Regions from separate parts of the Homo sapiens genome. Here all the other regions are linked to region 5. Evidence: fine-mapped expression QTL. A gene starts in region 5. Each other region holds a variant in brackets. All regions are shown on one strand. Distances are from middle to middle. Region 1 has its middle 22 kb from the start of MSANTD5. Region 2 overlaps CLK4 (CDC like kinase 4). Region 3 overlaps ZNF354A (zinc finger protein 354A). Region 4 overlaps COL23A1 (collagen type XXIII alpha 1 chain). Region 5 holds the start of CLK4 (CDC like kinase 4). Region 6 has its middle 30 kb from the start of ZNF354A.

Region 1 (4,088 bases), 48 kb before region 5:
TGTCCACAAGGACTCAAATATAGAGATATGGAGTCCTTCTCAGGCCATATTTAGTTTGCTTTAACAGGAGCCTTTCAAAGAAGAAAAAATAAAAAAATTAAGTACAGATAGCAAATAAGCACATTAAAATATGTTGAATATCATTGGGCATTTGGGAAATGCAAATTGAAACCACAATGAGATATTACTACACACTTATCACAATAAACTAAAATTAAAAAACAAAACACCAAATGCTGGCGAGGATGTGGAAAAGTTGGATCTCTAGTACACACCCGTTGGGAAAGTAAAATGGTGCAGCCAGGCCGGGTGCGGTGGCTCACGCCTGTAACCCCAGCACTTTGGGAGGCTGAGGCGGGTGGATCATGAGGTCAGAAGATCAAGACCATCCTGGCCAACATGGTGAGCCCCGTCTCTACTAGAAATACAAAAATTAGCTGGGTGTGGTGGCACGTGCCTGTAATCCCAGCTACTCGGGAGGCTGAGGCAGGAGAATCACTTGAACCAGGGAGTTGGAGCTTGCAGTGAGCCGAGATCGCGCCACTGCACTCCAGCCTGGTGACAGAGCGAGGCTCCGTCTCAAAAAAAAAAAAAAAAAAGGTGCAGCCACTCTAGAAAAATAGTTTGGCAGTTCCTTATAAAACGAAACATGTATTTCCTATACAACCCAGCAATCACACTGTTGGGCGTTTCTTTGTGAGAGATGACAACTTGTGTTCACATAAAACTTGTACACAAATGTTGATGGCAGCTTTGTTTGTTTAAAAAAAATGAAATAACTTGAAGTCCTTCAATGTGTGTGTGAATGGTTAAACAAACTCTGGCACAACCATAGAGGAGAATACTTCTTAGCGATAAAATGGAATGAACTATTGATGTAATCACCAACCTGGGTGAATCTCAAGGCATTGTACTTACTGAAAAGAGTCAAGCTGAAAAGGTTACAAAGTGTACGAGTCTATTTATATAACATTCTCAAAATGAGGAGCTGTAGAGACGGAGAACAGATGAGTGGTTGCCACAGGACAGGGACTGAGGGAGAGAGAAAAACTGGATAAGATGTCATATAGTTAACAGTATTGTACCAACATCAATTTCCCAAATTGGTTTTGCACTACAGTAATATAAAAATGTCACCATTGAGGGAAGCCGGATGAAGGACACAGAGACATCTATTTATTATTGCAAATTCTTCTGCATCTACAATTACTTTAAAAAAATAAATATTTTTAAATCTCTCCCTGCAAAGGAAAATCCAAGTTGAATGGCTTCACTTGCAAATTCTGCCAAACGTCTGAAGAAAAAATATCAATCCCTTTGCAAACCTGTCCAGAAAACAAAGAACAGAACATGTGTCAACTTGTTCTATGAGACCAGTACTACCTAGTACAAAGCCAGACAAAGACATCACAAGAAAACTATGCTAAAGATTAATATCCCTCATGAATCTACAAAAATTCTCAACAAAATACTATCAACCGGAACCTACCAACATATAAAGAGGGTGATTCACCGTGACCAACTGAAATTTATCCCTTGTATACAAGGTGGGCTTAACCCTCAAACATCAATTAATGTAATGTATCATATTAATGGAATAAAGAAAATAAACCCATGATCATCTTAATAAAAACAGGAAAATAATGGACAAAATCCAACAGCCATTTATAATTAAAAACTCTAAACAAATCAAGAATAGAAGAGAACTTATTGGCCAGGCGCGGTGGCTCACGCCTGTAATCCCAGCACTTTGGGAGGCCGAGGCAGGCGGATCACGAGGTCAGGAGATCGAGTCCATCCTGGCCAACACGGTGAAACCCCGTCGCTACTAAAAATACAAAAAATTAGCCTGTAGTCCCAGCTACTTGGGAGGCTGAGGCAGGAGAATCGCTTGAACCCAGGAGGCAGAGCTTGCAGTGAGCCGAGATCTCGCCACTGCACTCCAGCCTGGGCGACAGAGCGAGACTCCGTCTCAAAAAAATAAAATAAAATAAAATAAATAAAAAAAGAAGAGAACTTCTTTAACTTAAAAGGGGACATATACCAAAAAACCAGCAGCTGATATCATACTGAATGATGAAAGACAATTCCTTCCTCGTGAGGAAAAGTATCTGTTCTTACCACTTTTATGCAACATTGTACTAAAACTTCTAGCCAGTGAATCAAGTGAGAAAAAAAATATTTAAAAAGAAAAGGAAGAAGTAAAACTACCTTTATTTACAGACAACATGATCATGTATATAGAAATCCTAAGGAATCCACCCGAAAACATTAGAACTATAAATGAGTTTAGCAAGTGTTTTGAGTTGAAGTGTGTCCCTACCCCGCACCCCGCCCCAAATGCCCTGCCACCCCAGTACCTCAGAATGTGAACTTACTTGGAAATCATGTCATTAATTAAGAC[C/A]GGATCATACTGGAGTAGGGCGGGCCCTTAATTCAGTATGGCTCCTTATAAGAGGAGAAGAGATCTCAGCTCGCTGCAACCTCCACTTCCCGGGTTCGAGTGATTCTCCTGCCTCAGCCTCCCAAGTATCTGGGATTACAGGCGCCCACCACGCCTGGCTAATTTTTTGTATTGTTAGTAGAGACAGTTTCACCATGTTGGCCAGGCTGGTCTCGAACTCCTGGCCTCAGGCAATCCTCCCGCCTTGCACCCCAAAGTGCTGGGATTACAGGTGTGAGCCAAGGTGCCCAGCCTTAACAGATTTCAAAAGATTGAAATCCTACAGAATATGCCTCCGACTAGACATTATTCAATTAAAATAAAAAACAAAGGGTTATCTAGGAAAACCCCAAATATTTGAAAATTAAAGAATATACTTCAAAATATTCCATGAGTCAAAGAAGAAATCACACAAAATTAGAAGCATTTTGTAGAATGAAGCTAAGACAGAGCTTGGAGGGGAATTTATAGCCATAAATGCTTTGGTTAGAAAAGAATCTTTGAAATTCCTTTCATTCTTCCCCTTCTTGTATGTCCATTTTTTACATGTTTTCTCATTGTCCCACAGTTCTTAGATAGGCTCTGTCTTTTCCATTCCTTCTTCCTCTTTGCATTCCTCCAGGTGCACTGATTCTGTTCTCAGTCATGTCTAATCTTTTGGTAAGCCATCAAAGGCATTCTCCATTTCAATTATAGTGAGTTTTTCTTTTTATTTCCAGCATTTCCTTTTGATTTTTTCTTAAAGTTTCCATCTCTCTGCTTATATTACATATGTGTTGGGAAAAGCTGAGTGTTGGGAGAAGCTGAGGCAGGGCTTGCATGTCTGACATAATGTAAAAGAGTCTTGGAACATGTCCGGGGGCCAGGGTCTAAAACCTCTTGTGGCCTTTGGAACACCCAGTTCTGTGCTAAAGGGTGGAAGGCTGCCCTGTCACACCGTAGTCTAAGCCCAGGGCATAAAACCCCTCATGGCTTGGATACAGTCCAGGTCTCGTGGCTCTAGAATGTGTCTAGACTTGCTGGCTCCTTGCTCTTTGCTCTCCCAGGATCGATTGTATCTTGAATTAAAAGAACCTGCTCTCCATGATCACAAGTAGCAGAGCAAATGCTAAACCATCACAGCTGTAAATCATGTAAATCATGTGCTCGATGCAACGCGCCCTTTTGACCTCCACATTCTCACCACCTGTTTCTTTGTTGGATTACCAATAAGTAGCGTGGGGTCCCAGCGCTCAGGGCCTTCGCAGCCTCCATACACTAGTGATGGCCCTGTGGTCCCACTTCTCTCTCTCATAGACTGTCTTTTTGTCAATCCTTTGACTCCACCAGGCTTCGTCGCCCCCACGACCTGGTGTTGGGTCTGATCACCCCAACACATATGTGTTCTCACATCTTGTCTACTTTTTCCACTAGAGCTGTTGGCATATTATAGGTTTGTTTTTTGTTTTTTTGAGATGGCGTCTGTCTCTGTTGCCCAGGCTGGAGTGCAGTGGCATGATCTCGGCTCATTGTAACCTCTGCCTCCTGGGTTCAAGCGATTCTCCTGCCTCAGCCTCCAGAGTCACTGGGATTACAGGTGCCCACCGCCACGCCTGGCTAACTTTTTGTATTTTTTAGTAGAGACAGGGTTTCGCCATGTTGGCCA
Region 2 (4,088 bases), 25 kb after region 5:
TGTTCCATATGTGATAGGAACAACTTAGTTGAGAGACTAAAACCTCACAGGGTGGAGGATATGAGGTGTCCGATATATAATTGTTGCTGAGGTTTTTAAAAATTGTATGCATCTATATTATATAAGTCTATACACTTAGAGAGAGCTGCTTTCCATGTCTCCCCTCATGGGTGCAGGGTAAAGATACGACTCTTGTTATTTTACTAATCCAGACTTTTTTTTTTTTTCTGTAGAAAACGCAAGTATTTTCACCATAACCAGCTAGATTGGGATGAACACAGTTCTGCTGGTAGATATGTTAGGAGACGCTGCAAACCGTTGAAGGTAAAAGAAAAAAGATTAAAGGTTAAATAAACCACGTGTTTGCACTATTAATAATTTTTTTTAAAACAAAAACATTTCTCCCCCAGGAATTTATGCTTTGTCATGATGAAGAACATGAGAAACTGTTTGACCTGGTTCGAAGAATGTTAGAATATGATCCAACTCAAAGAATTACCTTGGATGAAGCATTGCAGCATCCTTTCTTTGACTTATTAAAAAAGAAATGAAATGGGAATCAGTGGTCTTACTATATACTTCTCTAGAAGAGATTACTTAAGACTGTGTCAGTCAACTAAACATTCTAATATTTTTGTAAACATTAAATTATTTTGTACAGTTAAGTGTAAATATTGTATGTTTTGTATCAATAGCATAATTAACTTGTTAAGCAAGTATGGTCTTGATAATGCATTAGAAAAATTAAAATTAATTTTTCTTTTTGAAATTACCATTTTTAAATACCTTTGAAATATCCTTTGTGTCCAGTGATAAATGTGATTGATCTTGCCTTTTGTACATGGAGGTCACCTCTGAAGTGATTTTTTTTGAGTAAAAGGAAATCTTGACTACTTTATATTCTTAAAGGAATATTCTTTATATACTTCAAATTTAGAACTTAACTTTAAAAGTTTTTCTTCTGTAATTGTTGAACGGGTGATTATTATTAACTCTAGATAAGCAGGTACTAGAAACCAAAACTCAGAAAATGTTTACTGTTAGAATTCTATTAAATTTTAAGTGTTGTATTCTTTTTCATTGGGTGATGTCAGGGTGATAACCAGACATTCATGGAAAGGCATGCAGTTTGTCCATTGTGACAGTTTGTTTAATAAAACCACATACACACTTTATTTAAGATTAAAATCTAACTGGAAAGTCAGCTTGGAAAATGGACATTTCCAAGTATGTTTGGTGAGTCACAGATATAAAAATAGAAATTCTGATGAGAGGTTTCAGTTTTTAATACCAAGTCCTTAGGAGTCTTAACATTGGCCAGCATCTGTTTATCAAATGACATAAATACGTAAACCTATAAGAATTAAGTTTATTAATTAGGCAATTTATGTCTGTGATAATTCTTACGGGAGAAAGAGGATTTGATTGGAAAGCAGTTTGGGAAGAAAGTGCTGCTGAAATTTCCAGAATTTAATTGATTGGTTACATAAACTTTTTGACTTCAGCGTTTGTTGTTGTTGTTCTTTTACTGTCCTTGTTTTCACATAAAAACTATATGGAGCCAGGCACAGTGGCTCACGCCTGTAATCCCAGCATTTTGGGAGACCGAGGCAGGCGGATCACCTGAGGCCAGGAGTTTGAGACCAGCCTTGCCAACATGGTGAAACCCTGTCTCTACTAAAGATACCAAAAAAGTGCTGGGTGTGGTGGCGGGCGCCTGTAATCCCAGCTACTCTGGAGGCTGAGGCATGAGAATTGCTTGAATCCAGGAGGCGGAGTTTGCAGTGAGCTGAGATTGTGCCACTGCACTCCAGCCTGGGCGACAGAGCGAGACTCCGTCTCAAAAAAAGAAAAAACAAAACAAAACAAAAACCCGGTATGTGGTAAATTACTTAATTGGGCAAAAGAAAAAAATGTCTGTTGCTATGGTTCAGTCAGCCAGGTAGGAATATTTTTTGTTGTAGAATTCCTAAGTGCTTATTTCCAGATACAGGTGAATTTTTGTTAAAAGTATCCCTGTTTCATAAGTGCATTACACAAATATTGGAGTTTTATCTGTTTAGGTTTTGTTTTTTTTTTAGACTGAGTCTTGCTCTGTTGCCCAAGTTGGAGTGCAGTGGCGTGATCTCGGCTCACAGCAACCTTCTTCCTCCTGGGTTCAAGCGATTCTCTTGACTCAGTTTCCCGAGTGGCTGGGATTACAGGCATGTGCCACCAGGTCCTGCTAATTTTTGTATTTTTAGCAGAGGCAGGGTTTCACCATGTTGTCGAGGCTGGTCTCAAACTCCTGACCTCAAGTGATCTTCCTGCCTCGGCCTCCCAAAGTGCTGGGATTAAAGGCATGAGCCACTATGCCTGGCTAATCTGTTTATGTATTTTAAACATAAAATGCATGGGATTTTCTTGTAGGACAAATAATGAAACCAAGCTTGGTTTTCTATGTTACTTAGGGGCAACATTTGTCAATACAGTAAGGCTGTGTTCCTAAAGTAGACTAGGAGTTT[A/TTA]AGAAAGCTGAAACAAAAAGTTTATTGTAGAATGACTGCATACATTATGTTTAGGCCTCTGATATAGTCCAAATACAGTGACTTTATTTCAGAATAGTTGAACTGTATGTGATAATTTTTTTAAAGAAGCATTTGATGTTTAAAAACAAGGTTTTTCCTGAGTTTACCAGTGTAGCCCTACAGATTAAGGTGTTTGCTATCCTTTATTTTCCCCTTCATTTTATTTTTCCACTGCCATTGTACTACCCAAGCCTCCTGTCCTTTCCCCCAATAAGTGCTTCAAGTTCCCAAATTAGTGTTTACTTTCTATGAAAAACTCAGAGTAGCTGATCTCAGGATATAGGAGGAAAGAAAAATATTCACATTATTTCTTACTAAGAAGTTATTGATTGCTAACCCCCTGTCTCTTCTGAAAATTTACGTTCTTCACAAAGGGTATTTGCTAATTTCTAGGCCTAATTCATGGAATTTCGGGAATTAAAACGAAACTTTAAAAAATTAGGATAGATGCAATGCTTAGAGGTTAGGGCAGTACCTCTGGGATCATTGAGTGTCTTTTGTCAACCTTCCTTCCCCTCTTCTTTGAGCTTTCAAGTTCCTACTCTTAATTGCCTTTTTTCCTTGTATTTCTGAACTCATTTTGTCAAGTTCCAAGGTTTTTTGTTTTTTTTTTTTTTTTGACAGTGCCTTGAGCTTCAACACTAAAAGGGAAAAAGATTTAGAATGGCCAATGCACATGAATCCTTTGTAATTTAGGTATTTTTCTTAATAATTTGATACCTCATAGAATTACTATTTCTAGAAATTCCATTGAATTGTTTCTAGAAATTCCATTGAAGTCAAGCTTGATTTTTTTAGGAGGCATTTGTAAAGTGCAGCTAAGTAGATTATTTCCAGCTTGCTGCTGCTGCTCATTTTCTTGAGGTTTTTTTTCATCCATGCATTCATGAAAATTTTCAGAGTAGTTGAATTCAATTGACTCCTGCTGACAGCAAGGGGACAAACTACTAACAATTTTATACTTCATAAAATTGAAAACTACTCCTCTGAGTACTCTAGAAGGGCTGTATACTAGAGAAATTGGAAGTGACTTGGCCAAATCTCCCAGTAATTGTGACTTAAATTCAGGTTTGCCAGATTCTACCATTGTGCTTTCCTGTAATAATACATTGAGTCAGAATGATCAGTTTGACTTCTTATTCACAGCTCTACTCTGAAATGACTCCGAGTGAAATGGAATAATAAAACCCAGGTTTTTGGTGGGTGCGGTGGCTCACACCTGTAATCCCAGCACTTTGGGAGGCTGAGGCGGGCGGATCACGAGGTCAGGAGATCAAGACCATCCTGGCTAACACAGTGAAACCTTGTCTACTAAAAATATAAAACATTAGTTGGGCGTGGTGGTATGCGCCTGTAGTCCCAGCTACTCGGGAGGCTGAGGCAGGAGAATCTCTTGAACCCAGGAGGCTGAGGTTGCAGGGAGCCGAGATCGCGCCACTGCCCTGCAGCCTGGGTGACAGAGTGAGACTCCATCTCAAAAACAACAACAACAACAAAAAAACCCCAAAACCCCCAGGTTTTTAT
Region 3 (4,088 bases), 98 kb before region 5:
ACAAATCAGATCTTTATAAATAAACATTAAAAACCTATTCCCCCTTATAGGCATGAAATTGCCCTGTGTCTGGGAATGGAAGAGGTGGTATTGATAATCATTCCTCTCTCTCTATGTAATCACACACTCCAAGTTTGTCCATGATTCAGGCATCGTTTCCCAACGATTCTGTAGTTTGCTTGTCTCCCAACAGGGAGCTTCATTCAGCCTCTAGGCCTACCACCTGCCTTTCCCACTTGTCTTTTCCAGGGATTAGCAAACTTTTACTATAAAAAGCCATGTAGGCTGGGCATGGTGGCTCACACCTGTAATCCCAGCACTTTGGGAGGCCAAGGCGGGCAGATCATGAGGTCAAGAGATAGAGACCATTCTGGCTAACGTGGTGAAAGCCTGTCTCTACTAAAAAACACAAAAAAAATTAGCTGGGTGTGATGCCGGGCGCCTGTAGTCCCCGCTACTTTGAAGGCTGAGGCAGGAGAATGGCGAGGAGCTTGCAGTGAGCCAAGTTCCCGCCACTGCACTCCAGCCTGGGCGACAAAGCGAGACTCTGTCTCAAAAAAAAAAAAGCCACGTAGTAAAGACTTTAGGCTTTGTGGGCTGCGTAATGGTCTCCGTAACATATTTCTCTTTTTTTTTCCCACCATTCTTTGCACAGGGCCATACATAAACAGGCAGTGGTCTGAATTTGGCCCATGACCCGTAGTTTGCTGATCACTGCCATCCTTAAAAGGGAGTCACATAGGCCGGGCGCGGTGGCTCACACCTGTAATCCCAGCACTTTGGGAGGCCGAGGCGGGCAGATCACAAGGTCAGAAGATCAAGACCATCCTGGCCAACATGGTGAAACCCTGTCTCTACTGAAAATACAAAACTTAGGCGTGGTGGCATGTTCCTGTAGTCCCCGCTACTTGGGAGACTGAGGCAGGAAAATCACTTGAACCCGGGAGACGGAGGTTGCAGTGAGCCAAGATTGCGCCACTGCACTCCAGCCTGGCAATAGAGCGAGACTCCTCCTCAGAAAAAAAAAGCGGAGTCAGATAGTGTTTTCTCGTTTTAGACAAGCTACCTGGTACATAATCCTTTTCATAGATAACCTACTTAGAAATTCTAATCAGTCTGTATATCTTAACATTTCCTCTTCTATAGAAAGCTAGTGGTATCCTATTACCAATACTGCATGTTGATCATATTTTCCTAACCTATAATTAATTGTCCCAGAGTCATGTCCTACAAGTCACTTGTCTTTTCCTCACCCTACCGCCTTACCCCCTTACCTCCCAGGGGCACAACTGAAGCCCTACACAGAAGCTCTTTGTACCATCCTGTGAGTTCTGTATTTAAATTTGGGATAACTGTATCAATACAAAACCAAGTCTGATTTGTTTGGTTGTGGTTTTTTGTTTATGTGCAGGGCTCCCATTTACCAAACCAAAAGTGATCTCCCTGTTGCAGCAAGGAGAAGATCCCTGGGAGGTGGAGAAAGACGGTTCTGGCGTCTCCTCTCTAGGTAAGTGGGTGGCCCGAGGTGCGGAATGGCCGCAGACAATGGTCTGGTTAATGAGAGGAGGTAGGAACGTTGGTTGGGAAACTCCCTTGAGAATTCTCAGGCCTCAAGAAGTGATGGGGAA[G/T]CGGAAGCCCAGGCTCTTAGGCAGGATTCACTTCCCCATGAATCTCTCAGAATCTCTTTCTTACTCTTTCCTGTTGTTTTAGAATAGGGCTGTATTTTCATGTATTCATTCAGCAAACATAGTCTATTTAAGGAATTTCAAATAATCACTCTGGCTGAAGCTCAGGGTGTATTTGGGAAAGGAGGAGGTGAGGAAGGAAATAGCCTAGAAAGCTAGGGAAGGGCCGCGTGGTAAGTGCTTGGGCACGGTTCTAAGAGGTGGAAACTGTCCCATGGAGCACTGGAAATAATGGAAGGATTTGGGCAGGAATCATATGGTCCTTGGTATCTTAGAAAAGTTGGTGTGAATCAGAAACAGCTGAGTCTCCATCCGTGTAAGAACAGCTAAGGGACCTGTGAGCATCACCACCCTGAAAACAAGAGTCCAGGGACGTGGACAGAGCTCCCAAAAAGTTACAGAGCATTGTTAGGACGCCACCATTTATGTCTAATGAAAATTATGTGTATGTGTAATGTGCACATAAGCAGAGAGAAAGGTTAGGAGGACACACCTTAGCTGATGACATTAGTTACACTTGGAATGGGATTGAGAATGGGTCCATGGAAGGGGGCATTACTTACATGTAGTATTTTAATGTTTCACAAAGAGAATATATTTGTGACGTTCTTATGTGATTTGAATTCACAAGAATGGTCACTTTGGAAGCATCGTGTTTGAAAGTGAGGCAGAACGCTGGGCACGGTGGCTCACGCCTGTCATCCTAGCACTTTCAGAGGCCGAGGCGGGCGGATCACCTGAGGTCAGGAGTTTGAGACCAGCCTGGGCAACATGGCAAAACCCTGCCTCTACTAAAAATACAAAAATTAGCCAAGCGTGGTGGGGCAGGCCTGTAATCCCAGCTACTCCGGAGGCTGAGACAGGAGAAACACTTGAACCCGGGAGGCGGAGGTTGCAGTGAGCCGAGATTGCGCCACTTCACTCCAGCCTTGGCGACAGAGTGAGACTCTGTCTTAAAAAAAAAAAAAAAGGCGGGAAGCCTTGCAGAGCGATTGCAGTCATGGAGGGAGGCAGGAGGTGGAAGGGCCTGGATGAAGGCACTTGCCGTGAGTTCGTGAGGGAGGAGGCGGCGCCCACGTGATCAGGGTACAGGAGCAGTTGGGTGTGGGATGGATTTCACTTGAGATGTGAGTGAAGTCGTCAGGTGGGGAACCCTGGTGGGCAGGTGTGTAAGTGACAGGGCCGAGACTCAAGGGAGGTCAGGGAGCCCATTAGCATGATGGGCATTAGAAGCTTGGAGCTGGCCAGGTGAGGGGGCCAAGTGGAGGCCCGAATTTCAGGAAACAGCATTTGCGAGGTGCTTAAGCAGGAGGAATCTGACAGAGCCCGAGAAGTAATCAGAGTAGAGAAACGGGGAGGGGCCATCGTGGCAGTGGGGGACTGAGAGTGGTTGAACTGGGGGGGCTCTGGCTCTGGGGGATCAAGGTTGAACCCTCGCCCACAGCTTTGTATAGCATTGGGCAGAAAGGGACACAGGTCTCCTGCTTCTGGAGTGCACGATCTAGTGGGGGACAAGGTGAACACACTCATTGCACACAAGGCACAGAAGGACACATTCCAGTGAGGACCACGTGGGAAAGACACTCGGTGCTGTGAGAGTGCAGAGCAGGCAGGTGGCGTCAGCAAAGGCTTCCCTGTGGAAGGGCCTGGGATCAAAGGACTGAAGAATTGCTCAGGCCTAAAGAAAGGTGTTCATGAAGGTCCAGAGAAGCAAAGCCAGCGAGGAGAAGGTGGAGCACCCGAGAGAGAGCCACGGGCCCTGTCACAGGGTTTGGTTGGTGCTTGAGAGCCAGGCACAGGTTCTGAGGAGCCGTAAGTAGCCCAGGGCAGGCCTAGGCTGCTTTCTGCAGCCGCCAGCCCATGTGGAGAACCTGACGGCCACAGTGCAGGGCTTGTCAGGTCCAGAGGGCTCAGTGATGGCCCCTTATGCCATGGGCCCAGCAAGGAGCTGCAGGGCAGGCAGCCTCGGTCCCCACAGCCCCTGTGCTGGGGAGAGCTTTCTCCTCCCTGAAGAAAGGTGAGATTTTTTTATATGGGAACCACACTTGTTTATCTTTTTAACTCTCCTTTGGGAGAAATACACTACGTGGTCTGGCCCTGGCTACCTCTTCACTCTCAGCTCCTTCCACTCTGCCCTTCATTCGAGGCCTCTGATCACCCTTGGCCGCCCTGCAGTGTGTCATGGGGGGCGCCAAGCAGGCCCCCACTCAGGGCCTCTGCCCTGCTTTTTCTGTCTGGGACTGTTCTTCGTGGCGGTCATGCGTCCATGTGGCTCGCTCACTTCCTTGTGCTGCACAGGCTTCGGCTCACACAGGCACAGATCATCTGACACGCAGCCCTGCAGCCCCCACGCCATCTCCTCACCGTGCTTTATTTTCCCTCCTCGTGCTTAGCGCTGTGTAA
Region 4 (4,088 bases), 42 kb after region 5:
TTCATGTCAACTCATGATCATTAAAGACCCTTCCCATGGCACACAAAGGAAGAGATAAACAAGATTTCTGAGTAAGAGCCATGAACGATCGTATCTTCACTATGATGTGAAAATATTCATGCAAAAAAATCTAATATTTTCCTCTTAAAGTGCTTTAAATAGGTTGCCTAAGTAATCAATCCCCCCATCTTATACCTATAGTTACAATGTTATAAAAGCTTAAAACTTTAGAATACATGGCTTTCATAATACAGTAAAAAATGTAATGCAAGGATTAAAGAAATATTTAGTTGTATTCAGAGGAGACCATGCCAGCTTACAATGGATTTATTGTTGGCTGTTGGCCTTCCATTGTCCAGACCAATCAGTTTGAAAACAAGAAAAGCCCAGAGACTCGAGTAAAGTTTACGCATTTTCCTTTTCTCTTATCAACTCTGTATATTGGTTAAATACTGTCAACCCAGAGTCAAATGGAGATTTTTCAGCCTCTTTGGTGGTTTGTCTACTTGTCAGGGCTGCTCTCTGCTGTCAGTTTTAATTAAGATGCCTATTTTTGAATTCCATGGCACAACTGGAGATGCAGTGTAAATCATAGCTACATTTGTTTCCTTGACATTTCCTGGCTCCCAAAACAACAAAAAAAAGTTTCCTTTCAATGACTTCTTGGCATGTTCACTTTCTCTCTCCACTCTTTTCTTGTCCTTTTTTTTTTTTCCTTGCAACAGTTTGGGAGAGCTTTATAATAATAGTAGCATGTTTAGAATGAGCCAAGGATTGGGGCGTTCCTTTCACAGACATATTTTGTCATTTTGGATTGGACTTTTCCACATCGGCTTTGAAAATTTGAGGCATGGCCCCTGAGGTTGGGGAATCTGTAAGCTGAATGAATTTATACCAGAGGCAGAGCAGAGCAGACCATGCCTGAGGTTTCCTATCAGCAGAAGAGAGTTTGAGGCCTGGTCCCACCATTTACCAGCTCTGTCATCCAACCTCTTCCACTGCCTCTCCTCTGATAGTGTGGTCACAGCTCCCATGTATGCAAATATGATAACAGACAGGAAAAGTACAGGATGGTAAATATGCTTTTGATGGGAAGTAACAGAATATCTGAGTGTCCTTTCTTAGCACACACTACAGGAGAAGCTTGGAAGACGGTCAGCGCATCCTGGGTCTGTCAGCGACTTGGCCACACCTGAGTACCACTCAGTCTCTGCCGTTCTCTTGTCCTTTCCTCATGGTCACAAGGTGGCTGCTGCAGCTGTGAACCTATGTCTTCACCCAAGAGTAGCCTGGGTAGAAGGGAAGGGGGCAGGGAAGAGAGCGGTCTTCTTGAGAGGTTGTCTCTTTAATTTCAATTCAGGGGAAAACTTTCCCACCTTTCGGCAGACTTACAGCCACTAGCCAGAGCTAGGTCACAGGGTCGCCATCCCCTTCACTGGCAAGGGTAATGCGATCGCCATAGGAGGCTTTGGCCAATCTTGACTCATCCCCTGAGGCTGGGCGTGTTGCCGCTGGAACAGAATCGAGGCTTTGGTAGGAAGGAAGACTGGGCATGGCTACTGGGGAGCAACCAACAGGGTCAGCCAGGGCTGTGGAGTGTTACCCCAGCGCCATCCAGGGCTGTAGGGCATTACCCCAGCGCCATCCAGGGCTGTGGAGTGTTACCCCAGCGCCATCCAGGGCTGTGGAGTGTTACCCCAGCGCCATCCAGGGCTGTGGAGTGTTACCCCAGCGCCATCCAGGGCTGTGGAGTGTTACCCCCAGCATCAACCAGGGCTGTGGAGTGTTACTCCAGCGTCATCCAGGGACGTGGAGTGTTACTCCAGCGTCATCCAGGGCTGTGGAGTGTTACCCCCAGCATCAACCAGGGACGTGGAGTGTTACCCCAGTGTCAACCAGGGCTGTGGAGTGTTACCCACACATCAGTCAGGGCCGCGGAGTGTTACCCTAGAGTCAGCTGGGGCCATAGAGTGTTACCTGAGCGTCAGCCGGGGCCACAAGTGTTACCCCAGGGTCAGCCGTGGAGTGTTACCCCAGTGTCTGCTGGGGCCATGGAATGTTTCTGTTGTCACCCCAGAGGAGGGTGGGGCAGAGCGGGGGTTCAGTCATCCACTGGCCCGCCTAAGTTCTCATAACTGGGCCTTCCTTCTGCTTTGGTGTTTCCCAAGGACCACATTTTGGGAACATTCTTCAACCACAAAATTTCTGCCTCCCCTGGGGCTCTGCTGTCCAGCTGTGCTGCCGGCCACAGCTGAAGGGAAGGTTGATGGGTTTGGGATTGTCTCTGGCACAGTCCCGTTGGTTGCAGTCTTTGGCCTTTAACCCTTGAGCAGATGCTGTTCTGCCCCCGAAGTGAGTGACTAAGGGTGGCACTCTAGGACATTGCTTGCCAGCTTTCCCATATCATAGCACATGCAAAGAATGGTAGCACTTCCCTCACTGCAGGAAGGGAAGAGGACACTAGGCTGGAGGTGACCAGCCACTCCCCAGCCCCGAAGGACCAAG[G/A]TAGTCAGTCTACCAGAGACCACATACAGTGCACCTGCACCCACTCGGTGTGTCTGGGAAGCTCTGTTACCCCCTACTATCCTGCCTTTCCCCCAGCTCCTTGGCTTTCTTAGCAGCCATATCTGACTGTGGCCTCCAAATCCCCTTCCAGAGCAGGTGCAGTTACAGTCATGGTCTCCAGAGCAGGCTGTCCCTCCTTCCCTCACCGAGCAGCAACCCATTAGCTTCAACCTTTCTAGATGCCTTTGGATCCTTTTACCCTCAAATAGCAATGTGACATGACTCCAAGATGGTGCAGCTTAATTTCAAAGAATTCAGGCTGGGGCGTGGTGGTTCACACCTATAATCTCAGTGCTTTGGGGGACCAAGGTGGGTGCATAACTTGAGCCCAGGAGTTCAAGACCAGTTTGGATGATATAGCAAGACCTCGTCTCTATTTAAAAAAAAGAAAAAAATTTATATGTATTTATTTCTAGGTGTGTGTGTGTGTGTGTGTGTGTGTGTGTGTGTGGCCAGGTGCAGTGGCTCACACCTGTAATCCCAGCACTTTGGGAGGCCGAAGTGGGTGGATCACCTGAGGTCAGGAGTTCGAGACCAGCCTGGACAACATGGCGAAACCCTGTCTCTACTAAAAACACCAAATTTAGCCAGGCATGGTGACATGTGCCTGTAATCCCAGCTACTTGGGAGGCACGAGAATCACTTGAATCCGGCAGGCGGAGGTTGCAGTGGGCCAAGATCATGGCACTGTACTCTAGCCTGGGTGAGTACATCTCAAAAAAAATAATAATCAGCTGGGCATGGTGGCGCAAGCCTGTAGACCAGCTCCTCGAGACACTGAGGTGTGAGGATTGCTCGAGCCCAGGTGTTTAAGGTTGCAGTGAGCCATGATTGCGCCACTGCACTCCAGCCTGGGTGACAGACTGAGGCTGTTTCAACAACAAATAAAAATTGGGGAGAAAGCAGGGGGTTATTAATTAGCTTGAGTAACGGAGAAGTCCAGGCTAGTGTCTGTGTAGGCCCGGCTCAAGGTGCCTGGATTTTGTTTCTTCCTCTTGGCTCCATATTTCTCAAGGATGCCCTCACTCTCCCCATAAAGTGCCAGGGAAGCTTCCAGCAACTCCAGATTCACATCCTTAGTGTTAGTTTCTGTTTTCCAACAGTCCCAGCAGAAATTCCCTAATTCCCTCTGATGGACCAGTGTGGATTGCCTGCATTTATCAGTACAGACAGCCTGCATCTAACAATACGGATTACCCGTCCTGGTCACTGAGACCCGCAGGGCAGCCTCTCGATGGGCGAGGCTCAGCTGCGTCTGTGTGTGTGTGTTCATGTGTGTGCACGATCAACCCCACTGGAGCTCTAGGGACCAAGAAGTGAAAGCTGATCCCAAAGGACAATTTGGAGTGGTGTTATTGGAAGAAAAGGGAGAGGACATGAGGCCGGCAAAACCAGTAGGTGACCATCCAAGGAATAGGGTGAGAAGCTTGGGCTCTAAGCTGGAGCTGTGTTCTAGAGAAATTCCACCTCAGTGGCATGAAACTCAATGAAAGGATTTTTGATCCAGTGGGGAGGCCAGTGGG
Region 5 (4,088 bases):
AGAAATTTAGATAAACCTTTTCATTAAGTCTTGCCAGGTAACTGACTTAATAGGAAGGGTTGAGGCTGCCACGAAAGGGTGGTAAGCTAACTGGTGCAGTGATGCTGGGATGAAATGTCTACCTTTAACTTACTCACTTTGACCTTAAACCAACTGAGCAAAATGGCCCAAAGCAGCTTATGTAAACAACCTACAAATATTTACTGGGTTCTAGGCCTGAGATACCAAAGACAATATAAATCAGGTCCTTGTCTCCAAACTCAGCACAAAGCCACAGAGAGTGACTAGGGGCACCATAGTGCTGCATCACATAGCATAGAGGTGCTAGTCATTCTCAGCTTCCTTCTGATCACTACACACTTTTAAACATTAGACCTTTTGGTGGCATACAAATTAAAACACTAAAGCGAGATGAATGTAATTACAAAGCAGACTCTACTATTGGGTAACAGTGTGTGTGACGTCTATAATATAAAGGCCTCTGTAGGTGGCATTTCAAGTGGCTGCTTTTTAACATAGTGTTGCTTTTTTGAGCAGAATTGTGGGCTGTCCTGACCACACTTTCTTATAACCCCAGGAGGCAGGATCTCTCCTACTCCATGAAACAGGAGAACATTCTTTGGTGCCAGCTTGAATTTACATTCTCATATGCTGCAATTTGAGCCCCACTCTACCTTGTATTATCGCCCAGACCAGTCAGCTCAACATTCTATCTAATAGATTCCCTTGAGACGGGATGTGTAATCAATTGTAGAACCAATACATTTCACTCTTTGGGCAAAATCTGTTAGCATACCAGGTGGCTCCAAATACTCCACTATTTGAGGACTTCACATCTAACTGGAGTAGTCAGGAGCCGGGAAATGGGTGGGAACTCATGTCAGAGACAGCATCTTAAAGAAATGGCCTTTCAAGGATGAGTAAGATTTAAATTTGTAGATGCAAAAATGGTGGCTATTCTAGATGAAAATAATATCATTTGTTTCATTCTGTAGCATAAAGAGTTTACCCTTCCAGTTTTCCAAGTTTCTTTTCAACTTCGCTTCTTGGAGTGCAATCTCCATGAAAATTCAACTTACTTTTTGAAATGCTGTACAATCTCCGAGATTTATCTAAATTTACCCTACTTACCCAAACCAGATGGCACAAGTTTCTATCATGTTAGATCACTAAAGGTATTTCCGTTCCCTCCTTTCACCTAACAGGATAACAGGTCTCCCACATGCTACTGGGCTAATACCCGCAAGAGTTCAACCCTACCCTCCCAAATTTGATTTCTAGCTTTCCCTTTTATCCAGCGAATCCCCGTCAGAATACAGAAGCCAACCCCCACCCCGCCCGCCGTCCCCCCCCACGATCTTCAGTCTCACCTAAACCCTTTCCCTCACTTACGCCCTTCCTTGCTTTGACACCCTATTCTTGGTTCTCCTCCTCTGCTGATCATTCCTTCTCAGGCCCCTTTCCCTCTGGCCCTTGAGTGTTCCCCACAGGGCTCCGACTTTGACCCTAATATTTCTCATGTTACATACTTACACGGGGGAACTGCCTGAGGGTCCTCAGAACTGCAGAATACCTTATTTGAGGTAAGCAAGCCCCATAACGGACTATCACTAGCTCAGAGACATTTTTCAGCCTTGAATAAAATCAGCCCGCAGGGACAAAAAAAAATGGGGAAAACTTCGTTAGGGAAACTTCCAGCGACCTTAACTGCTCAGGAGGTAGGGATCCTAACAGGAAAACCTTGTCAGGAGTCTCCATTGAAACCTCCGGGTTTTTGTTTTGTTCTGAATAGGAGCACGTGCCTTGAAAAGATTAGCACCCCTTGAGCTTGTTTTCTGAGACAGCCTCTTTGTCCGAATCCACCTTAGACTGGAAGCGCCAAGTGGGCAGGACAAGCACCCAGTCCAGGGAACAGCCCAGGGACCAGCCAAGGCCCGCCCTAGGCGGTTTTGGGGCCGTTGTCGGGTGCCGGCTGCGGGAGTTGAGGTCCCGGGGGAGGGGGCAGACACGCGGTACACACTGAGGGCGGGACACGGGCGTTCCTTCCCGGTTCCACCCGAGCCCGTAGAGAACGTAAACACCCTCCCGGCCTAGAGGCCCCGGGACCGGGTGGGCGGGGGGGGGGGGGTGGAAATGCTTGGGCCGCGCAGCCGCAGTGTGGAGGCTCGAGCCCCGCTCTTACGTCACGTGGAGCCCCGCCCTTAGGTGGAGCGGCGGGAGCGCGCAAGGTTCTGTCACGCAGGCGCGTTCGCGCGGCGTAGGTGGTGCTAGAGGCGACTCGGGGGATTCTAGGGCGACGGCGCTGCCGCCATTTTGTGGGGTGTTTGTCGCAGCGGCCGAGGAGGGAAGACGGCAGTTTGGCGACATTTCTCGGCCGAAGGGCCATTTGCTTTTGCGGAGGTAGGGTTGCAGATGGTGTGTGCTGGGACAGGCGGCTGTCGGTCTTTAGGTCTCCGAGCCAGGTGTCGGAGAAACGACCGCGTTAGGGGCCTGGGCTTCTGGAGCTGAGTTGGGAGTTCTGCGAGGCGCTGCTCGGCTGGTGCACGCCGGCAGCACCGAAAGTTGCTCGGGCGTCGCGGTTCTGCCGCTGACCCTTCTCTGAGGGCCCTGGCCGCTCGCGTCGCGGCTCCGGAGGCCGTGGGCTCGCGGTCCCCTGCTGCCTGGCGAGCGCGGCTGTTGGTTAACCCTGTCGGGACCTCTTCCAGCCGGCGGGCGCTAGGACCTGTCGGGAGACCCTTCGAGAGCCGTCTCTGGCATTCGTGTTGTCGGAGATCAAGTCTTCCCCTGGATTCCTGGCCTGGGCCGTTTGTAGCGTTTCGGGGGTTTTCCAGAGTCAAGCATTTGCCCCTGTCTTGAGTGCGCCAAAGGCACTGGCCGGGTGCCCAGGAGCCGGGAGGTGGGGACCGGGCGTCCGTGCAAATCCAGGTGGTTGAGGGCAGTAGCTGCTTGTGAGAGGTGGAAATTTGCGGAGGCTAGTCCTCTGTGCTATGCTGAACACAACATTGTTGCAGCGAACCTGCGTTTCTGGTGGTTTTGCATCTTATTATCCCTGGTTGCCTAAATAGTCCAGATAGGCTTATCCGATCCTTAGGAAACCGCCCCGCAAACTGAACTCGCCAGCCACTTTGTCTTGCCTCATAGCTGTCCTGTGCGATTGTGCTTTTTACACACCCCTACAGGCTTGTAACCCATTAAATGCAGTCCTCTTGGAGCCATCCAATCCTAAACTTATAACCTGTTTCGATGTTTTTAAGCCATGTACGTAGCGTAAAGTTGTCAAGAACTACAGGATCTTAAGGGCAGTGGCGATGGATCTACATATGAGATCCATTGTGTCATTATTTTTTGAAAGATACCTACTCTAGCATGTGGGATGCTTTATTAGAGGCAGTGTCATGATTCTAGATAGCTTTTCTTTTTTATGTATGCGAAGGAACCTTACCACGTAGAACGTGGGTCGGGTGATCTTTGTGCCTCCAGATAAAATATTTTTGAACATTGCAGGGTGAGTGGGGGAGGTCAGAGGCTGGGACTAACAGCTGAATTACATTTGAAGTAGTGAACTTGAGAAGAATTTTGGACTCTCACAACGGAGCTCGTTCTTATTTTAATGTTTGCATATTAACTGATAATTTGAGAGTTCTGTTTTGCTGGAGGTTAGCTGGTTGTAAGCAGACTTACAGTAGAAGAGGAAAAAACAAAACTGAAGAAGATACATAAGTCTTGAAAAAAACTTCATAGTAATGGAGGGTCATAATAATAACGCTCGGTCATCAGATGTGATTTTGCTTGCTATGATTTAAAAATGCTTAACCAAGCTGAGTTCCTGATGTGGTTAAAATACAACTTTGGTATTTGACGGAACGCTTCAGAAGAACTGCACTTGAAATACACATTTTCTTTTTTTTTTTTTTTTTTTTTTTGAGACAGGGTCTCACTGTCGCCCATACTGGTATGCAATGGCGTGATCATGGCTCACTGCAGCCTTGACTTCCTTGGGCTCCAGTGATTGTCCCAGTAGGTGGGACTACAGGCTCGAGTCACCATGTGCGGCTAATTTTTTGTATTTTTTGTAAAGGCAGGGTTTC
Region 6 (4,088 bases), 130 kb before region 5:
TGCTGCCGTCTGTGTCTCTGCTTTTTTTCCTTCTCCTTGAAGTGAATTCTATGGGCCTGAACCCAGTGCTCCACTCCCTTTGTTGTGAGGTGAGTTCCCAGGCAGTGTTCTAGCAGGCTTCTCATCTGTTTCAGTCGCAGAGACCTTGGGACAGTTAGTCTCTGCCAAACCTCCTACAGGCCAGGGCTTGCTGACCACAGGCACGTGCTGCGGTCCGTGATGGCGGGCATGCTCGCACTGCGTCTGGAGGTTGGGCACTGCCTCTTGGCTTCTGCTGTTGGGAGCTCACATCAATGGTGGCCACACCCCCGATCCATCATACCTGGCCTACAAAGGAGAAAGCCACAGACCTTCTAAGGATGCAGGTGTTCCCCCCATGAATGTATTTCTCAACACCTTAGTAAAGAAGGCATTTTCTGGGGTCTCCTGGGGGATGTAGTTGGTGGGTAGGCGTGCAGGTTGCCGTGGTAAAAATCCTTTCAACATTTCGTCTCCCTAGGCCTTCAGATTCCCTCCTCCAACCATGCCAGGGCAGCTCTGGCATCTCTGCCCACTCATCTTAGGCCACCATGGAGTCCTAGTTCCAGCCACCAACCAAATAAGCTTTGAGAGCCACCTCCAGTTAAGCAAACTAACACGTGATATCCAAAATCTTAGTGTACCTAGGTCAGGGAGTTCAGTCTACTGTAGGTCATGTTCTTCTGCCTGCCTTGGTCTGACACGCTCACACACTCCCTAGGTTTCTGCCAACATAGATTGGCAACATCTTGCAGTTCTCTTGGTGTAAAAGCAATCTCATTCTAGGCCATAGTGGGTACTAAAAATCTAAGATCCTAGTTGTGAGTCTGGTGCCAACTGGTGGTAGTTGTGGTGGGTCTGAAGGAGAATAGGCATCTCCTCATGTGAGATTGTCATACAGTTTTCAAGAAAAGGGCAGCTAGTCTCCTTAGACACAACAGAGCAAGCTCCTTCGTTTGGCAAAAGAGGCTCAGAGTGACTTGTGGATTCAAGATTCTCAGTTTCATCTGAGTCCCACCAGATGTCCCCATTCTAAGCTTCAGCATCCTCTTTTTCAATTTTATCTATTTTATTTTTTTTTGAGACAGAGTCGCCCAGGTTGGAGGGCAGTGGTACGATCTTGTCTCACTGCAACCTCCGCCTCTGAGGTTCAAGCAGTTCTCAGAGACAGGGTTTCACCATGTTGTCCAGGCTGGTTTTGAACTCCTGACCTCAGGTGATCCACCCAGCTCAGCCTCCCACTGTGCTGGGATTACAGGCGTGAGCCATGGCGCCCAGTGGGTCTGGATTCTTTTTAAGTCTGATAAGAAACATTTACAATCTATTTTCTCCGAAGCCTACTACCTGGAGGCTTCACCTGCGTAATAAAAACCTTGGTCTCCACAACCCCTGAACCCAGACCCTCTGTTCTGTTGATTTCAGGTCTTTAGATAATGATTTAACTCTTTCAACCAACTGCCGATCGGGAAATCTTTGAATTCATCTATGACCCGGAAACCCCCCAACAACCCGCTTTGAGATGTCCCACCTTTCCGGACTGAACCAATGTACATTTTACATATATTGATTGATGTCTCATGTCTCCCTAAAATGTGTAAAACCAAACTGTAGCCTGAACACTTTGGGCACAGGTTCTCAGGACTTCCTGGGGCTGTGTCACGGGTCATGGTCCTCACATTTGGCTAAGGGTAAATCTCCAAATATCAGAATTTGACTCTCTTCATCGACAATTTCCAGCACCAAACAGGAACCTGGTTTTCCCTGAGCAGCTTTCCTGTGTTGCTCTCACTCTACTCTAAGTGAGCTCACACTTACCTGGGTCACCATAGTTCTTTTTTGTTTTGTTTTGTTACGAGATGGAGTCCTGCTCTGTCGCCCAGGCTGGAGTGCAGTGGTGCAATCTTGGCTCACTACAA[C/T]CTCTGCCTCCCAGGTTCAAGCAATTCTTATGCCTAAGCCTCCCAAGTAGGTGTGATTATGGGCACACCTCACCACACCTGGATAATTTTTGTATTTTTAGTAGAGATGAGGTTTCGCTATGTTGGCCAGGCTGGTCTCAAACTCCTGACTTCAGGTGATCCGCCCACCTCAGCCTCCCAGAGTGCTGGGATTACAGGCGTGAGCCACTGTGCCCAGCCCAATTGTTGATGTTTTTGAGATAGGGTCTCTCTCTGTTGCCCAGGCTGGAGTGTGGTGGTGCAGTCTCTACTCACAGCCTTGATCTCTGGGCTCAGGTGATCCTCCCACCTCAGCCTCCCGAGTAGCTGGAATTACAGGCATGCACCACCACACCTGGCTAATTTTTGTATTTTTAGTAGAGACAGGGTTTTGCCATGTTGCCCAGGCTGGTCTCAAACTTCTGAGCTCAAATGACCCACCCGTCTCAGTGAGTCAATCCTTAGAATCCAAAGTTCTGGGATTACAGGTGTGAGTCACCATGCCCAGCCTGTCCACTGTAGTTCTAATCCATACCAGAAATGCGGAGGGGACGTCAGTGGATCACACCTTGAGAAACTGCTGTAAACAGTGTGAAATCATCAATAGAATTTACTTTTAAGGGCAAGGATTACCTATTATTAACCTTTTCGTATATCCTATTTGAGGGCCTGGAACATGATAGTCACCCAATATATGTGTGACTATCTGAGCTCAAGCAAGATTATTGTTTTCAAGCCTACAATTTTTAAGTAGAGAAGTATCAGAGGCGGCCGGGCACGGTGGCTCATGCCTGTAATCCCAGCACTTTGGGAGGCCAAGGCGGGTGGATCACTTGAGGTCAGGCATTCGAGACCAGCCTGGCCAACAGAGTGAAACCCTATCTCTACTAAAATTACAAAAATTAGCCAGGCGTGGTGGCGGACACCTGTAATCCCAGCTACTTGGGAGGCTGAGGCAGAAGAATCCCTTGAACCCGGGAGGCGGAGGTTGCAGTGAGCTGAGATCGTGCCACTACACTCCAGCCTGGGCGACAAGGTGAGACTCCGTCTCAAAAAAAAAAAAAAAAAAAAAGTATCAGAGACATTCAAACCAGAGCAACTCCATCTTGAACAGGGTTTGGGTAAAATAAGGCTGAGACCTACTGGGCCTCATTCCCAGGAGGTTTGGCATTCTTAGTCACAGGGTGAGATAGGAGGTCAGAACAAGATACAGGTCACGAAGACCTTGCTGATGCATCATCCATTCTGTTGAGGGCCTGAGTAGTGGGAAAAAAAAAAAACCAGCCAAAACCCACCAAAACCAAGAAGGCAATGAAAGTGACCTCTGGTTGTCTTCATTGCTCATTATATACTAATTATAATACACTAGCATGCTAAAAGACCCTCCCACCAGCGCCATGACCGTTTGTAAATGCCATGGCAACATTCGGAAATTACCATATGCCGTCTAAAAAGGGGAGGAAATTTCAGTTCCAGAAACTGCCTATCCCTTTCCCAGATAACTCATGAATAATCCACCCCTTGTTTAGCATACAATCAAGAAGTAACTATAAGTGTATTCAACTGAACAGCCCATGCCACTGCCCTGCCTATGTAATAGCCAGAGTAGCCATTCTTTTATGCCTTGCCTTTCCTTTTTTTTTTTTTTTTTTTTTTTTTGAGATGGAGTTTTGCTCTGTTGCCCACGCTGGAGTGCAGTGGCGCAATCTTGGCTCATTGCAACCTCTGCCTCCGGGGGTCAAGTGATTCTCATACCTCAGCCTCCTGAGTACCTGGAATTACAGGCGTGCCACCACGCCCTGCCAGTTTTTTTATTTTTAGTAGAGATGGGGTTTCGCCATGTTGTCCAGACTGGTCTCAAACCCCTGACCTCAAGTGATCCGCCCGCCATGGCCTCCCAAAGTGCTGGGATTACAGACGTGAGCCACCACACCCAGCCTATTACTTTCTTAACAAACTTGCTTTCACTTTACTCTATGGACTCACCCCAAATTATTTCTTGCACAAGGTCCAAGAACCCTCTGTTGGGGTCTGGGTCAGGACCCCTTTCTGGTAATGGAAGTAACATGATTGTTTTGGGTTTAGAAAGCAAATACTAGCCAGGATGTTTAAAAATAGAAAATACTTCATTACTTC

Evidence for each region. PIP is the estimated chance that this variant, and not a neighbour inherited with it, causes the effect. A credible set is the group of variants that fine-mapping cannot tell apart.
Region 1: its variant is the best candidate, but not a certain one, in a credible set for the expression of CLK4 in whole blood (TOPMed, PIP 0.68).
Region 2: its variant is the best candidate, but not a certain one, in a credible set for the expression of CLK4 in subcutaneous fat (GTEx, PIP 0.54).
Region 3: its variant is the best candidate, but not a certain one, in a credible set for the expression of CLK4 in whole blood (INTERVAL, PIP 0.72).
Region 4: its variant is the best candidate, but not a certain one, in a credible set for the expression of CLK4 in non-classical monocytes (Schmiedel 2018, PIP 0.74).
Region 6: its variant is the best candidate, but not a certain one, in a credible set for the expression of CLK4 in whole blood (INTERVAL, PIP 0.74).

What each region holds. Positions count from the first base shown.
Region 1 is chr5:178,673,429-178,677,516 of GRCh38, reverse strand. No RefSeq gene overlaps it. Among named protein-coding and RNA genes, the nearest start is that of MSANTD5, 22 kb to the left of the region's middle. The variant C/A (reference allele first, on the strand shown) is at 2,405.
Region 2 is chr5:178,600,080-178,604,167 of GRCh38, reverse strand. It overlaps CLK4 (CDC like kinase 4), which reads left to right. Exons shown (of 13, transcript NM_020666.3): 12 at 234-324; 13 at 411-1,504. The coding sequence ends at 551. Among named protein-coding and RNA genes, the nearest start is that of COL23A1, 12 kb to the right of the region's middle. The variant A/TTA (reference allele first, on the strand shown) is at 2,505.
Region 3 is chr5:178,722,795-178,726,882 of GRCh38, reverse strand. ZNF354A (zinc finger protein 354A) reads left to right here. Exons shown (of 5, transcript NM_005649.3): 4 at 1,412-1,507. Among named protein-coding and RNA genes, the nearest start is that of ZNF354A, 5.8 kb to the left of the region's middle. RefSeq lists a silencer at 2,624-2,824 and an enhancer at 3,040-3,540. The variant G/T (reference allele first, on the strand shown) is at 1,629.
Region 4 is chr5:178,583,237-178,587,324 of GRCh38, reverse strand. All of the region lies in intron 1 of COL23A1 (collagen type XXIII alpha 1 chain), which reads left to right. Among named protein-coding and RNA genes, the nearest start is that of COL23A1, 5.1 kb to the left of the region's middle. The variant G/A (reference allele first, on the strand shown) is at 2,506.
Region 5 is chr5:178,625,258-178,629,345 of GRCh38, reverse strand. CLK4 (CDC like kinase 4) reads left to right here and starts at 2,296. Exons shown (of 13, transcript NM_020666.3): 1 at 2,296-2,400. RefSeq lists enhancers at 2,328-2,937, 2,670-3,350.
Region 6 is chr5:178,758,702-178,762,789 of GRCh38, reverse strand. No RefSeq gene overlaps it. Among named protein-coding and RNA genes, the nearest start is that of ZNF354A, 30 kb to the right of the region's middle. The variant C/T (reference allele first, on the strand shown) is at 1,935.